Regions from separate parts of the Homo sapiens genome. Here region 2 is linked to region 1. The links come from fine-mapping of genetic effects on gene expression. A gene starts in region 1. The other region holds a variant in brackets. All regions are shown on one strand. Distances are from middle to middle. Region 1 holds the start of GAN (gigaxonin). Region 2 overlaps GAN (gigaxonin).

Region 1 (8,726 bases):
TAGGATTGCTAAGGGTGTCAGCAGGAAAAACAAGGGCTAGACCAAAGATAAAGCAGAATAAAAGATTAAACCAATAAGTCAAAAGACTTTTCTATATTAAGTAGAAAGTATGCCAAACAAGTTACTTTAATTCCCAGTGTGACAGAGTTGGACTGGCTTCCTTTGTTGGGCACATAGTAAGCAAAAGACAATACTGCTCCTATTTTTTATATACATGATTTATTATTGTACAGACTGGGTCTCACTATGTTGCCCAGGCTAGTCTCGAACTCCTGACCTCAAACGATCCTCCCGCCTCCACCTCTCACAGTGCTAGGATTACAGGTGTGAGCTACCATGCCAGGCCATACCACTGCTTCTAAACCACACAATCACACAACCACTTATGACAGTTACCAACACTAGGCCAAACACAGACATTAAACAAAATCAGAATTTTATAAAACTTCAGAGATTACCAAACTTTTGAACATTCAATTCACAGATTAATGATATCACAGATCTAAATGCTTAAGTTTCAAAAGGGAAAGATAAGAAACATCAAGTTCTAGAATACATAAATATATTTTGTTTCAATATAATTCTCTAAAGTGCTATTCAAACAAACAAGTACATTATAAAAGCCCAATATTATTGGTATTAAAATTACCAGTAAAAATACAAAATTAACAAATTTCTTTCTAGTTAGTGATACAGATTCGTCAAATTACTTTGAAACAGCTTCGGAATTGATAATTTTTAAAAACATCCCAAGACATTCTATCACTTCAATAGCCAAATAAACTTAAAGCAATTCATCTGTCACTGATGAAACACATATTGACTGATTCATGTTTATCCACAAAACATAAAAAAAAAAAATCTGCCTTCTCTTTAAAGATGATTGAAAATGGAAACCAAAATGACACAGTATGTAAAAGTGCTTGATAAACATTTTAATTCTAAGATATTGTAAGCCAGCTAACAGTAAAGTTTACACAAAGAGAACGGTGAAATACAAGTAATGCTCTAACGTGGTAGGGCAAGAGTAGGAAGGCGGTTAGCCGTAATTAATTTGGAGTCTAATCCTAGTTCAACCATTAAGTACTAATAACCTCATAACACAAGTCACTAATGTCCACTGAGCCCCTATTTTCTTATTTAGAAAGTGAAAGAACCGGACTACAGATATTTCCTAATTCAATGGGTACTACCTTTGAAGACATGGGAACAGACCTATGAGGTGTCAACACTATTACGTATTTCTTCACAGGTGTGATTAAATGAGAAGACTCATTTTTATCCCTCATTCATCAGATTAGTGAGCTGAAGCCTTGTCATCTACCAGCAACTCACAGCTAATATGAGTAAAAGCTGGAAGCACAAAGCGGGTCTTCAAACTCTGAATCCAGTGCGTTTCTCAATTAGGTATAACTGAGCGTCTGTGTACTATGAAAATGTGATGGTGCCAATTTTCTAATGTACACATTTGCTGTGGTAGAAAGAAAGGCAGTCATTCATTCAATACATTAACTGATAGGCACAGTTCTTTCTGGGTGCAAAGAGTAAAGCAGTGAATAAAAGAAAACACCGCCGGGTGCCACGGCTCACGCCTGTAATCCCAGCACTTTGGGAGGCCGAGGTGGGCGGATCACGAGGTGAGGAGTTCGAGACCAGCCTGGCCAACATGGTAAAACCCCGACTCTACTAAAAATACAAAAATTATCCGGGCGTGGTGGCGGGCGTTTGTAATCCCAGCTACTCGGGAGGCTGAGGCAGGAGAATCGCTTGAAACTGGAAGGCGGAGGTTGCAGTGGGCCGAGATCACGCCACTGCACTCTAGCCTGGGCTAAAGAGTGAAACTCAGTCTCGAAAAACAAAACAAAACACCACGACCTCATTGAGGTCACACTGTGGTTGGGAAAGACCACCAAAGTAAATGTGTAAAATATGGGGTACGTCAAAGTGGTAAGTGCTATGGAGAAAAACGAACAAGGATAACAAGCAAGGATTCGGCAATTTGCAATTTACTTCTTTTAAGCCAAACGGATGCCATTTAAAGAACTATAACAATAATGCATCTAAAGTAGTTTTCTTCAGCATTTTCCCAAACAGGGAAGACTTTGGTCTGCTGACTCCAATTTGGGATGGGTTGCTCAAACCTCGGAACTGCCAGCTAGAAGCTGTCTGTCACATTAGCAATCCAAATTCTGTACTAACGATGCTACCCCAGACCCTACTGCCGCCCCGCCCCCCCACCCCTCCACACTCCCCACCGCCAAAGAGCGCAAATGGATTCACAAAACAAATCCAAGAGAAACCAGAAGTTACAAGGGCACTTGAATTTCTTCTAAGTTTAGCACAGATATCTCCCCAATGCAAAGGTTAAAAGTGTAGCGTGCGTGGTGGTTTTGCTGGGACAAAGCGCTAAGAATACACATCATTTTGCTTTTTCTGACCTGTCAATTGTAGTGATATTCTCTACCACTAGCTTATATTTAACCAGCTTACTGGTCAGTTTCTCCAGTTTTTAGCATTCCCCCCTTTCCTTTTATTAAAACAGCAACCTAGTTTGCAAGAAGGTTGCTAAAAGAAAAGATAGTCTCCTGCAAGATCTGATACACTTGTATAAGCACTGTCTTATCAACCTTTTAATTAACCTGGTTAGTTGAGTTGGCAAATCAGGTTAAGCTTTGCTTTACTAAAGTATTAAAATGCCCTTTGTCGCAAGGCTCTCACGGTCCTCGGGTTGTAACAGCATCCTGAGAATTCGCTACAGTTTACTTCAACGTGTAACTCCTCTTTTAAACAGTTACCAGAATGGAGCGGAAAAGACACGTTTGGCAAGGAGAATTTCGCCCGGAGGTTCGGACTACCAACCCAAGGAGAACATCGAGAGGGTTTTCTCTGCCTGCACCCAGCGAGGCGCTGTCTGTCTGGCCTCCCAGCGGGCAGGGCGCTCCCCGCCTGGTTGGCGGCGCCGGCCCAGCCCCCGCGCGTGGATTCAGAGGCGAGCGACTGGCGAACTTCAGCGGGGACCGCGGGCCCGGCCTGGGCGAGGGGGTGACTCTTCCCCGGCGCGGCCTCGCCCAGCCCGCAGGTGCGGGTCCCGGCCGGCCCAGGACGGCGTCTGGGGGCCTCAGGGTCTCCGAGGTCGGGCGCTCGCCGCGGCGGTGGGAACCGGGAGGGACAAGGCGGGGGATCGCGGCCCGGGTCCGGGGACAACTCCAAGGGGCGCGGGGGTCCAGTGGGGAGCGCGGGCCTGGAAGCCACAGAGGCCGCCTGGGGGACGCGGTCAGCGGGGCCGGGTTCCGGCGCTTGCCGGGAGGGACGCCGCGCCAACGGTGACGCGGGGACCCCGGCGCCGGGGACAGGGGACAGGGTCTGGGGGCCACGCCCGGCCCGGCCGCCCCGCCTCCGGCTCCGGGCAGCACCGCCGCGCCCGCCCGCCGTAGCCCCCTCCCCACCTGATGTACGGGCTGGCCGCCGCCAGGATGTTCTTCTGCACCGGGATCTCCTCCCCGTCGAGGACCAGGTGCGCGTCGCAGAAGCGAGACTCCTCGCGGAAAGAGCTGAGCGCTCGCAGCAGACGCGCGGCGTGCTGAGGGTCAGACACGGCACTGCCCTCAGCCATCGCGGCGCCCGCTCCTCTGCCGACGGGTCCGGCTCCCGACACCGTCCGGCCGGACCCCTCGAGCGGCCCGAGTCCTGCGCGCGCGCCCGCCCGGCCCGGCTCTCCGCGCTCTGAGCAGAAGCTGGAGCCCCCGGGACGTGCCTGTGCTATCCGCGGCGCGCTGGGCCGGCGCCTTTAAGAAGCCGCGTCATGAAGTCATTTCTCCGCGACGCCCCCGCACCGTCGCTCCCCGCCTTCTCGCCTCCGCTGCTGGAGATGGCCAATCAGAAGCCTCCTTCCTCCGCCCGCCTGACCAGCTGCGGCTGGGTGCAGCGGAAGGTGTCTACGGATGAGATAGGTCGCTCCCGCGATGGAGGGATGTGCGGGCGGGCTAGGATTCCGTGGTTAAGCCTGTGGCCTCTGGAGCCGCGAGTTTGAATCCTGGTTGCAGCTGTTCCACTTACTAGCTCTGTGGCCATGGGTAAGGTGCCCATCCTCAGTTTCTCCGTCTGCAAAATGAAAGCGAATTCTTAGTGTTGTTGTGGACTCATGAGATGATGCATGGAAGCAAGGGCGAAGTCGCTGTAGCTTTCTTTATTTATGAGAGAAAAGGAGCTGCCCAGGTGAGAGGACAAAAACCCGAGAAAACAGACCCGGAAAAGATGGTTTTGGTTGCGGGCTAGGAAGGAGATGTAGCAGATGAAGCTGGAGAAGTCCGAAGGAGGCCTTAAATTTTGCAGGGCCTCCTTGGTGTGGGAAGGAGTTTGGTTTCTGCAGTGGTGAAGAACCATGGAAGTACCGTATTTAGCAGGGGATTTTGTGCAGGTCACTCAGCTCCTGCGTGGAGAATAAGGCGGGGATGGATGTGCTAAAGGCAGATCGATGCTTAGGTATTGCAGGACTAGAGAGAAGGGAATGGGCACCTGGATGAAAGGGTGATGCGGGGGCGGGGGTAGACAATAGTGGATTGTTTTAAAAGAAATTGTGAGGGAGAGGGAGTTAAGGATAAATATTCTGTTTGAGTAACTGCATGCATGTTTGCACCTTTCAGGGAGAGCTAGGAAATGCTGAAGGGGTGGGCAGTAGAGAGGCAGATGTTTAGATTCAGACAGGCTCCCAACCCAGTGAAGATCAAAGCTGTGATAGAAAGGATCGCTGGGTCAGCTCAGCTGGCAGGCCAAGCCCCACGGTATCTGAAGTTTCCCTGGAGGTTGCTCAGGGCACATGGGAGTGTGGAATGTAGCAACCATTTTGTGCAAACGTTAGGGACTCCATAAGCCTCTAAAAAATTAGCAATTGTATGAGGACTCCGGACCAGAAGAATGTGGCTAGCATTCCAGGCAAGACAGGATGGAATTTTCACTGTCCTTCAACCAACTGAAAGGCTCCAATAAAGTCTTGGGTATTTACCCTGAACCAGCCAAGGCTTTGGAGTCACTGGCAGGAATCCGAGTATCTAACTGTTTTCAGGGCAGAATAGATGGGGAGGGTACGGCTGTGGAAGACACATGCATTTCCACTTTCTTCTGTAAATGCAGCTCAGTGTTCCCGGATGCAATGATAAAGATGTCTAGGATTTGCTTCAAAACAAAACAAAGGGATGGGGAAGCAGATGGGAGTGTAGATGAGTCAAAAGTGGCCGCAAGTTACTAATTGTTAAAGCCACGTAATGGGGATGTGGAGATTCGTTGTACTGTCTCTATATTGTTGTGGATGTTTAATGGGGATGTGGAGATTCATTGTACTGTTTCTATATTTTTGTGGATGTTGAAAAATATTTTCTTCTTTCTTTTTTTTTTTTGAGATGGAGTCTCCCTCTATTGCCCAGGCTGGAGTGCAGTTGTGCAATCTCTGTTCACTGCAACCTCCGCCTCCCGGGTTCAAGTGGTTCTCCTGCCTCAGCCTCCCAAGTAGCTGGGACTACAGGCATGTGCCACCATGCCTGGCTAACTTTTGCATCTTTAGTAGAGATGGGGTTTTACCATGTTGGCCAGGCTGGTATCGAACTCCTGACCTTGTGATCCGCCCACCTTGGCTTCCCAAAGTACTGGAATTACAGGCATAAGCCACCACACCCGGCCGAAAAATATATTTAAAAAGGTAAGAAACACACAAGACAAGCAGCTTGGACTTATCTTCTCCATGATACCTACCCAGTATCCCTGTGAGCAGCTGACATTCCTTTCTCCAAGCAGTTGCTGTATTTTGAACATTGCTCGAGCAAGAAACTTTTTATAATGGGTTTATTTATCCATGTCACCTGCTATACTATGTTTATTGTAGCTCAGCATGATTTCCAGGTACCAAGCACAGTACTTGGTGCGTAATAGTGCTAACTGAATGTTGGATGGATGGAGGGATTAAAAAAAAGAAAAACACCTGAATATCAGACACTTAATAAATGTTTCTTGGGAGGCCGAGATGGGCGGATCACGAGGTCAGAAGTTCGAGACCAGCCTGGCCAACATGGTAAAACGCCGTCTCTACTAAAAATACAAAAATTAGCTAGGTGTGGTGGCAGGCACCTGTAATCCCCACTGCTCAGGAGGCTGAGGCAGGAGAATCACTTGAGCCCGGGAGGCAGAGGTTGCAGTGAGCCGAGATCACGCCATTGCACTCCAGCCTGGGTGACAGAGCAAGACTCTGTCTCAAAAAAAATAAAAAATAAAATAAATAAATGTTTTCTGAACTGTATTCTCTATCTGTTCTTAGTTAATTTGTGTTTGCCATTTTTAAAGTCAAAAACCAGGGAGAGTTCTCTACACAATGTAAATATTTGATAAGTACTTATTAATTGCTTATTGTGCTAGTCTATTCTTTAAATATCAGAGGTTCCAAAACAAAGAGCTCCAATAGTAGGATCACAGTCAGGTAACCAATTATCCGAGTAGGAAGGTTGCCTTAGTTGAAGTAACTGGAGGTGAATGGGGATTTGTCAGGCAGGCTCTTCCAGATAAAGGTGAACCTTCCCTGTTGTTTTGATAGAAGGAGGAAATGGAATGACCATCAAGAGAAAGGTAGTTGCTGGCTTGAGAGGATCATCTGTGCAACAGGCAGCTAAGCAGAAGAAGACTTTATATATATTTTTAATACCACCCACACTGTTGCTAGTATTCCCCACCACTCCATTGGCCTGGTGAACTCTTATTCATCCTTCAAAACCCAGCTTAACCATGGCCTTCAGGAAATCTTGAGCTGGCTTCCCAGGACAGAGTGGGTCAGTCCTCTGCATGCTCCTGCTGCTGTGCTGTACTCACCATACTGTACTGTAATTTACTGGTTTGTAAGTCATTTCCACTGCTGGGTTGTGAGCTCCTCCAAGGCAGGGGCTTTGCCTTATCTGCCTATGTTCCCAGGACTTACACAGTGCCTGATGTGTAGTAGGTACCCCATGAATGTTTTACATAATTAGCAGGAGCGTATCAGGTAAATTAGCAAAGCAAACTGTGGGATGTGGGATGTCAGACAATAGGAGTAGGTGGGCTTATGGGAGCTGAAGAGCACATGCTCCTCAGCTCTGATTGATTGCTCTGTGCGATAGGGGCCCAGTGGTGGTGGATCTAACAACTTTTTAAGAGATTCTGACAATTCAGACTTTACATGTTGAATATTCCGGATTTTCAACATTAGCAACTAATTCCATTTGGAGGAAAAAATGTAGCATGGGTCTACAGACAAGATCTGGCTGTAATTCATGTTCAGAGGTAATCAGGAAACGATTAGTTTACTGAAAATGTAGTCGACAATCAAATGGCTGCTAGGTTGCCAATAAAATGTGTTGAGTGGAATTCACATGCCCCAGAAAGCTCCTCCTGGTGCTGTGGGCAAGGAAGAGGGCCCAAGTGTGGGAAGAAGGATTCAGGAGGCAGAGCCAACTCTCCCAGTGCTGCCGGAGCCACTCTTGCTTGAGCTGAAGTACTGTGGACTGTTTTGCAGCCTTCTTGATATTGCTCAAACTGAGCCACCCTTGATATTGTGCCTATCAGAATGATGGATTAAATGTTATTGTTTCCTTATATTCCATAGGCATCAGATATCAACTGTCATTGTGAAACATATTACAATGTAAGAGATTTGATATTGTCCTAACAGCTTTAGTCTCTGGTGGCTTTACTGAGCTCTTCTGGTTTAGAGGTGAAACAACCCAGAGAAAGGATTTATTTATGTATTCGTTTTTGGTCTGAAGACCAAAAAGGATGTTTGCAAGATATTAACAGTAATCATTCATTCAACAACTGTTTTTAAAGCACCTGCTGTACGATACCTGCTACAGATACAGTGATGGTGAAAGTATAGTTGTCTCAGTGTTATTATAGAAGCTTTTACTCTGTATTTTCCTCGATTTCTATTTTCTGTACTGATCATGCATAATTTTTTACAATCATTAAAAAAACAAGAAAGCAATGTCTTTTTGCAAAAAGGGAAAAAAAAGCTTTCTTTTGCTTTGAAAAATGTGCCCTCAAGAGAGGAATCCACTTGGGGGGTTGGGCTTTTATTTCCTAAAAACTACTTAGAGAGTCCAGTAAGAGAAATAATGCAAAGAAAATATTAACAGTTTGAAAATTCTTTAGCAAATATCAAGTCCAACGGATTTATCTTATTGAAGAGAAAACCAAAGTACAGATGAGCAAATGACTCAGTCAAGGTTATAGGTGTGACCCAGTCAGGGCAGAACAGACTAAGGTCTAGATCTTCTGCTTTCCAGCCCTGTAAGCTTTTCCATTACACCAAGTCGACTTGTCATAAACATTCATTTGTTTGAGACAGTCTCTTCTGATTCATTTTAAGGTAGTCTTCAGATATTTTATTGGGTAAATCTTTCATTTGTCCAAATCTATATATAGCTGTTTTCTTTCCAAAAAAAAGTCTAGGCTCTTTCAAATTGCTGAGTCAGAGAACATCTCAGTATTTATAACGCTTCAGAGTTGGTTCTATATATTTACACAGTACTCAGAGAAGTGTCTCAGAAACCGGTGAACTAATTAAATTGTAATGAAACTCCATGAAGGTCGTAACTGTTCCTATCCAAATTCATCATGTATTCTACCCCAGCACCCAGTACAGTGCCTGACACACAGTAGGTGCCCAATAAATATTTGCTGAAGGAATAAATTCTAATAGAATTGAGATTTTT
Region 2 (8,726 bases), 65 kb before region 1:
GTCATTTCTGACTAAATAATTATATAATGTAGTTTTATTTATTTGATGTTTAATTTCATGAAAAGGGGAAGGGGTTTAAAAATCCAATCACTTAGAGAATTTCAATGACAGAACTGAAAAAGAACAAACTTTCTACGGAGCGTGGTGGCTCATGCCTGTAGTCCCAGCTGGGTCTCCACATCTGAGGCCAGGAGTTTAAGATCAGCCTGGGCAACAGAGCAAAACCCAGTTTCTAAAAGAAATTTAAAAAAATAAAATAAAATAAAAAAGAATAAACTTTCCTAAACTGTATACATTAGACCAAACCATCTGGAAGTATGATTTAATTCCTCAGATGTCACATAAATGGAACTATTACAATGAGACAATATTGAAATATGTTTAAAATGGAAATAATAATAGGGTTCCTTCTGAAAAACACAAAACTTTACCAAGTTTTACCAGCTAACTTGCAAAAAATATAGAAAATGCCTAGCAGTCAATACCACTGAGACTTAACTGCCAGCAGGCATGACAGACACTCAATCCAAGTCTGTGTTATCAAATATGGGCAAATGGGCCCCTTCTCATCCTTATACTATGAATTTCTGTAATTTCTCAAAACTACAGACAGAGTAAAGAGTATTTCAAGAATTATTAAAAGCTATCAAAATACTTTCCTCAACATTCTAAGACATAGTTTATTTTCCCTTACTAATTACATGGAATAAGAGAGGGAAGTATACATGAAGCTCTTTGAAATAAAAAAACAGTTTCTCTTTCAAAGAAACTTTCTTCTGTTCTTACGACCTTAGTAAATAAATTCTTAACCTTCCTATAGCTAACTAACAAAGAAAATCAAAGATCTTTCAGCTTATGCCTGTGCAACTAGCAAAGGACATGTTTGGGAGCGTAAATTGTATTAATACTAAAAATGATTATTCTATTACTAAAAATACTTGTATGCCTAGAAAAATCAAGTTCCAGCCTCACTGGCTGACTGGTGAGCTGATAATCCAAAGACCTGGCTTCTGCTTTTGGTTCTTGCTCCTCCCTAAAGTGAGAAATGAAGCCATATCTATCAGGCCTCCAAGATTACCCTGGTACAATGGGGAGAGTGCCCTGCCTATTCCAGAGGTGTGAGGATCAAAGGGGTATGTCCTGGAAAGATTTTGACACCCATATAAAAAGCAGTCAATAAAGCCCAATACTAAACATGATCAACATTATAAGCTGTGCTGAGTCTATAGAGGGTCTCATAGTCCCATATAGAGGGTACAATCAGAAGACTGTACATCATGTACATCAGGCACTTGGCATTGTTTATGCTATACTAGTTTCAGCTCCATATAGGAGGCCGGCCCATGCTAGTTTCAGCTCCGTATAGGAGGCCAGCCCATATGGGTACAAAGTTTCTCACTGAAAACCCAGTAAAATCAGTCACTCTTGGAGTGCCCTTTTCAACAGAAGAACATTACTTTGATCACAAGAATCTTATATTTATTTGTCAAATGTTTATTGCCTACCTACTCTGTGCAAGCACTGAGACTGGCAGATGACAAAGACGGGGCCCTTGCCCGTTCCATAGTGGGTTTATGACCTTGAGTAGGAGAGTGGTGTGACCTCTGCCTCACTGTTCAGCTCCCAGGATGGCAAGCACAGTTCCTAGTGGGTGCTCATCAGACATGTGTTGGCTGACCCAAGGCGGGTTTTGCTACACTCAGCTGCTCTCTTCTCACTGACTTCCTGGACTCCAGTGCTCAGTGAGCAGCCAGTGGAAAAGGGCCGCCTCACCTTTCCCTTCCACCAGGTGTTTTTAACGGGGTTCCGGCATCTTTAAATTGATACAGTCAAAGCGCCACCTCATTCTTCCCCCATTTAACCAAAGGTCTTCATCTGACCACGGGAGGCCTCTTGAATCATGAACGCCAACATTCTGGAAGGGGATACTGCGGTGTTTCTAGCACTCCTTGGAAGGTTTTTGGAATCCCTGGTTTGGTACACTGAGGTAGGAATGTACCAAAGGGAACTCTAATGGACCACAGCAGCTAAGACATTTCTCTAGAAATGAAACTTAACTACCCATGAGTAACTTAGGTGCCATAGCAAAGCCAGTCCTCTCTTTACCACGTTTGTACAAAGAATGTATTTCCTATGCATTGACTAGGGAATCCCCCCAACTCATAAATTATAAAAATGACACTTCCAAGCCATCAATGAAGGAAGTGTCATCATTAAAGTGGTAGTGCAATATAACAAAGTGTTTACAAACAAAACACCATCCAACATACCCCCAAATGCTCCTTTTTGGTTGTTATACAGTTTGAAAAAAGCCTACAGTTAGCTATCAATTCCTTACAGCAATGAAGTACTAAGCTAAACAATGCATTCAGAAATTTCTTAGGCCAAATCCTGACAGTATACCAACTACGAGTTGGTAAACACTGTTTTTAATCCTGCTGAAGAAGAGAAACGCGAACACCAAGTAAAACTTACTATAAACTACAAATATTTCAATATTTACACTCAATATGAGTTCGACACAGTAGTATAAACTGAAGGTCAACAGGCTCAAGAATTTATCTGAAGCACCAGGAGACAGTAATATATGTAGTTTAGAACTACAATTCAAAAAGTAAACACAAATACATTTATCAGGTCAAATAGCATCACACACACACGTACAACTCACTCATTCATCTCTCACACTTTTTCTATTCACAGGATATAAGCACTATCAAAAACAAAACAAAAAACACTTTCAATAAACACTTAAATCTTTGAAAAATCTAAATTTGGATATGCTAAACAAAGAAACAAACTACCTATTTTAGACTGCAGCCTAGGAGAGGTTCTTTAAATATTTACTTATTCTAACCTGAGACAACTTTCCTTCTGAAAATAAATTGCACTTCCCCCAAAGATATTTGTATTTAAAATTTAAGACCTATCCTGAGCCACCAATTCCAACACACACCTGGTAAAAGTGCCTTATCAAGAAAGAAGTATCAAAAAGTTATCAAGAAATGATGTTTCAAGGCATAAGTGGAATGTTAAAACACAAACCTGCATGAAATGAGTCAACATTTATTTTACAATACTGAAATAACTGTAATTTACAAAAGAGTCATGATTAATGTTGGAGCATAGTAAAATTAAATACATCCCTATACTTCAACACAATATTTTAATATTTATATATAGTAAAATAACAGTTTGGCACTTAGCAGCTTTGTTGGTTATTGCATCCCATATTATGTGGCAAATTTATTTTATAAAACATTATCTAATTTCTGCAGTTATAGAGTCAATGAACTGAAATTAAAAAAAAAAAACACTATTTTTATAAAATGAATTTACCAAGTCATGCAGGTACTGATAATATTGCAAGAGGAACACATTCACTCCTAAATAATGAACTGTCTCCTTGGAGAGGCCTGGTGTAGACTGGAAAAAAAACTTTAAATATCAGAAATTAAAAAAGGAGAATTGCTGACGATCGTGGCTTTAACTGGATGTCAGTTACTGTTTTAATGTTCCCCAATTACAGCTGCTGAATGCCAAGGTACTGTTCTGTACAGGACATTTCACCAAAGCAAATTTAGTTTTTCAGCTATTTCCTTCCTCTAAAACTAATATCTAGTTGTAAAAAGAAAAATCTTCCTTTCTTTGCAGAGGCCACATAGTTTGCTTTCATTAAAAAGATCTCCACACTGTCACTACGAAAATGTGCAGACAACAGCTGACTGGTACACAAAACAATTCTGAATTTGGTTTTGACTGACATATTAAACATGATTGAATTACATGACTGTGCGGCACATCTGGCCTGGTGCCTCTGGCATATAAGATAAAAACCTTACACCTTCTCTTATCAGGTATCTTCTGGCTAAAATGGAGAGTTAATGTACCACACTCAACACTCTCTAGAACCCCATAGGCACAGCATCTTTCAGCAACTTTTGACGCATTGTACTGACTTCCAGCAGGTATAAGAAAAAAAATCACAGGTCACCCTTTTTTATGTCTATGGGTGGGAGAACGTAAGTGATGTTTTTCATATGCATGTTAATTGCATATAAACGTTCCATACAGGAAGTTTCTAGAAGAAATTCCTGTTCTCGACTTAAAACCAAAGGATACCTTTATACATGTGTTAATAAGACAAAATGCTGCTTCTTACAGCCATATTCCAAAAGGAAAAAAAAAACCTTTTTTTTAGAAAACAATTAAAAATGAAGTACTGTATATTAAATTGATTAGAAATTTGACATTGCATAAAATTCAATTTAGGAAGGAATCAAGCACTTTGAAGTCCCCGATTTCACACTAGGGTGGTGTAATTCAAGTGGAAAACAAAATATCTTACAAGATACGTTCCACGAACGAAAGACATTTTTCCCCCAATGAGAAGTGGGGTAAAGTGGGTTGAGGTGAGAATGAGAGATAGGAAAGGAGGGAAGGAGGAAAAGATTAATTTGCTCTACTATGAACAGAATGAAATTAAGTTGAGGTAGTTTATTCTACCAGCCAAACTTTACTCGTAACATAATTTGTCTAAAACTCTCACTAGTGAATGCCACTGGGAAACTTCTATTACAAAGACTAGATTCTTAACACAGATTCGCATTCTAAGACAAGTTTTCAAACCCTAAACAGTAGTAAACAAGACTTTGTGTGCTTTCAGACAGGTTATATGAAAAAGTTTCTGATCCCTATGTATTTTGTCTGGATAGCTTTTTTGTTTTTGCTTTTTTAGCCACAGCAGACCTTTATTATTTGTCTGACTCAGGTCTTTCTTTTATAAAATCTCCTACTCACTAATATCCTCATACTTAGAAAATGGTTTTGCTCATTGAGAAGGCAGAATGGCACTGCAGGAGACCCTTCCCGGCTCCACAGGTACTACCCCAGAAAGGATGCGTGACGTGTCTTGATCTAAGTCAACACAGAAGCGAGCAACTTCTTTCAGTTCACATGAGGGCTGCAACCTGACTCATCAATTTACTGAATCTTTACATTACTAAGATAAAGTTACAAAAGAGCAATTTTATCTTCATTTCAATTCATCATGATATAGTTTTAAAAAGATTCTTAGGACAGAGTACTAGGAATAAATGGAGACTAACTGGCATACAGTCCAATCTAACATTTTAGGCACAAACCTTAATTTGTTGGGCAGG[G/C]TTAGGCATAATATATCCTTCCAAGTGCAGTGGAAAAGCAGTCTTGGCATGTTTGGATATGTTGATTTGCATATACGGATTTTGTTTGTTACCAAAGCTACGTATTTGAATACAGCAGTCAGACATGAGTTCCCTTCAGGGAAAATGCACCTTAGTATTTTAACTTTGATATTTTACATGATAGCAATTCCCACTCCCTTTTCCTTTTGATATTTACTAGCCTCCCTAGCCTCCAACATCTACAGCCACATTTAACTGGAGGAACTCACTCCTCCCAGGTAGTTTTTCAACAGTTACGTGTTCTCCCAAACAAGAGCTAAAGCTCAAGTTTGTAAGCATCATAAAACCACCAAAGAGTTACCATACCAAAGCCCAGCACAGAGTGAGTTTCAGCTGCCATCTCTGCTCTCCCTTTCGGAGCTATGTTATGGTGCTCTTGGGTCAGGATCTCGCACTCTGCTCTGCTTCCTCCTCAAGGGGAATGAACACGAATACGGAATAAGCCTTGCTGAAGCTGCAGGCGGAAAAGCTTGCAATTCGCAATGCGTAAGGCTGCACATCCTGTACGGCGAAGGTCGGATGGAAGGAGTGGTTTAGTGTGGTGCCAGGTTCCTGTGCTTCTTTTAAACTCACGCACGTAGTCGTAATTGGTACCTAAGCCACAGAAATAAGCAAGGGTGAGAAAATGTACCCAGAATCACCAGGAAACAGTTCCAAGAAAATCACTGTAACACTCTTACCTGTATCAAGATCTCCAATAACATAAATACTGGCTCCTATAGGTACAGCTCCATAAACAAAAGAGGAACTGGCGGGGATGCATAAATTCTGGTCGTTAAGATAGATCCACCTGAAAACAAAGCCCATGCACAAAATTAAGGAAATCAAAAGGATGACAACAACATCTAGGAAGACTGACACAGCAAGCTTGGTGAGTCATCAGCAGTATCAGGCACTGTGCCAATCTCGACCCCACGTTCCACTGCCAGGTAACCACCGACATGCTGCCAGTCGCTACAGATAGGAGTTTTGTCTGTGCTAGAATGAAACATGTATTGAGTCATAAACAGCATGTGCTTTCCAACCTGCTTCTGCTCAGCACAAGGTTTCTGAGATTCATCCACACTGTTGTTTGCATCTGTCATTCATTTCTGTTTATTTCTAAGCAGTACTCCATCATACGGATGTACCAGAATTTGTTGGTTTTTCAGACAGGGCCTCCCGAGTGCAGTGGCACAATTATGGTTCACTGCAGCCTCAACCTACCAGTTCAGGTGATCCTCCCACCCCAGCCTTCCAAGTAGCTGAGATTACAGGTGTGCACCACCACATTCAGCTAATTCCTGTGTGTGTGTGTGTGTATGCGTGTGCATATATATACACATATACACATATGTATATACACACATATATACACACATATATACACACATATATGTATGTATATATACATATACATACATATAATATATACTTATACATACATATATACACATATACACATATATATGTATATGTGTGTATATACATATACACATATATGTATACACACACACATACACACACACACACACACACACACACACACACACACACACACACATATGTATGTATAAAGATGGGATATTGCCATGTTGCCCAGGCTGGTCTTGAGCTCCTGGGCTCAGGTGATCTGCCCACCTCAGCATCCTAAAATGCTGTATAACAGGCGTAAGCCACAGAGTCCAGCCCCAGAATTTGTTATTCATTCACCTGTTGACGTTCCAGTTTTTGGCTGTTATGAATAAGGCTGTCAGGAACATTAGAGAGCAAGTCTTTTTTGCGGACTTATGAAATTGCTGGGCTATATGGTAAGGTTATTGTTTACTGGAAAAAAAAAAAGTGCCCCACTGCTTTCCAAAGCTTTGTGCCATAATTTTGCACTCCAATTAGCAATGCATGAGAATTCCAACTGCTCAGTATCACTGTGAGATCTGAGTATTATATTTTTAATTTTGGCTACTTTAATGGCGTATACTTCCCTGAAGACCAATGATGTTGAGCATCTTTGCCTGAGCTTATTGGTCATTTTATGGAATTTTTTTTTTTTTTTTTTGAGACAGGGTCTTACTCTGTCACTCATCCAGGCTGGAGTGCAGTGGTGCAATCACAGCTCACTGCAGTCTCAACCTCTTGGACTCTAGTGATCCTCTCACCCCACCCTCCCAAATAGTTGGGACCACAGGTGCACACCACCACACCCAGCTAATGAATTTTTTTTTTTTCCATAGAGATGAGGTCTCACCATGCTACCCAGGCTGATCTCAGGTTCCAGGGCTCAAGTGATCCTTCTGTCTTGGCCTCCTAAAGTACTGGGATTGCAGGTGTGAGCCACCATACCCAGCCCCATTTTATGTTCTTTTATAAAATGTCTGTTTAAAGGTTTGCTCACTTTAAAACTGGGGGCCAGGTGTGGTGGCTCAAGTCTGCAATCCCAATACTTTGGGAGGTTGAGGCAGGTGAATCACTTGAGCCCAGGAGTTCAAGACCAGCTGGGCAACATGGCGAAACCTTGTCTTTACAAAAAATACAAAAATTAGCCAAATGTGGTGGCATCTGTCCCAGCTACTCAGGCTGAGGTGGGAGGATTGCTTGAGTCAAGGAGGTCAAGGCTGCAGTGAGTTGAGATCATGCCACTGCACTTCAGCCTGGGCAAAAGTGAGACCCTGTCTCAAAAAAAAAAAAAAAAAGATAAATTAAAAAAAAAAAAAAGGACGTAGCAAGACTGTCTCTAAATTTTTTTTTTAATTGGGTTTACTGTCTTCTTCTTATTCAATTGTCAGATTCTTTATATCCTGTGGATATAGATACTTTGCTAGATAAATGTATTATGAATATTTTTTCCCAGCATGTAGGTGGCCTTTTCATTTTCCTAATGGACTCTTTTGAAGAACAGAAGTTTTTAATTTTGATGAATTCCAATATATCCTTTTCTTCTTTTACAGTCACAGTTTCTGTGTCATTCTAAAAAATCTTTGCCTACCCCAATACGAAGATTTTTCTCCTATGCTCTCTTCTGGAACTTTTAGTTTTATCTTTTACATTTAGGTCTATGATACATTTCAAGTTAATTTTTTGGGTCTGACATGAATCACAGTTCACTTTCTTCCATACAGATAGCTAGCTGTTCCAGCACCATTTGCTAAAGGCTTTTCTTTCCCCCACTAAATTGCCTTGGCACCTCTGTTGAAAATCAATTTAATAACCACTAAAAGGATTTGAGGCTCTATGAAGAAGTGCTTGATCCCAGAGCTGAGGCAGAGAAAATACAAGAGGGGCCTGGGGCATCCTGTCGTGCCAGATAGGAAGTGCTTAAAAAAGGATGGGGGTGTGTCAAAGGACACGGAAGCCACAGTGAAGCAGCTACTGACAGCCGAGGCTGGAACTATGTGAGCAAGAAAATCAATAATGATGGTGCTGGATTTATAACTCAGGAAATAAAATAAATATCCATGAATCCATATACTATAAATAATTGGAAAACATTAACAGGAAAAAGGGACAGGTTTCCTTTACCGAAAAATT

The links. PIP is the estimated chance that this variant, and not a neighbour inherited with it, causes the effect.
Region 2: its variant is the best candidate, but not a certain one, in a credible set for the expression of GAN in testis (GTEx, PIP 0.66).

What each region holds. Positions count from the first base shown.
Region 1 is chr16:81,310,001-81,318,726 of GRCh38, reverse strand. It overlaps GAN (gigaxonin), which reads right to left and starts at 3,765. Exons shown (of 11, transcript NM_022041.4): 1 at 3,447-3,765. The coding sequence starts at 3,613. RefSeq lists silencers at 2,889-3,158, 3,179-3,238, 3,379-3,718 and an enhancer at 3,729-3,928.
Region 2 is chr16:81,374,505-81,383,230 of GRCh38, reverse strand. GAN (gigaxonin) reads right to left here. Exons shown (of 11, transcript NM_022041.4): 10 at 5,903-6,012; 11 at 1-5,816. The coding sequence ends at 5,635. Among named protein-coding and RNA genes, the nearest start is that of MIR4720, 6.2 kb to the left of the region's middle. The variant G/C (reference allele first, on the strand shown) is at 5,163.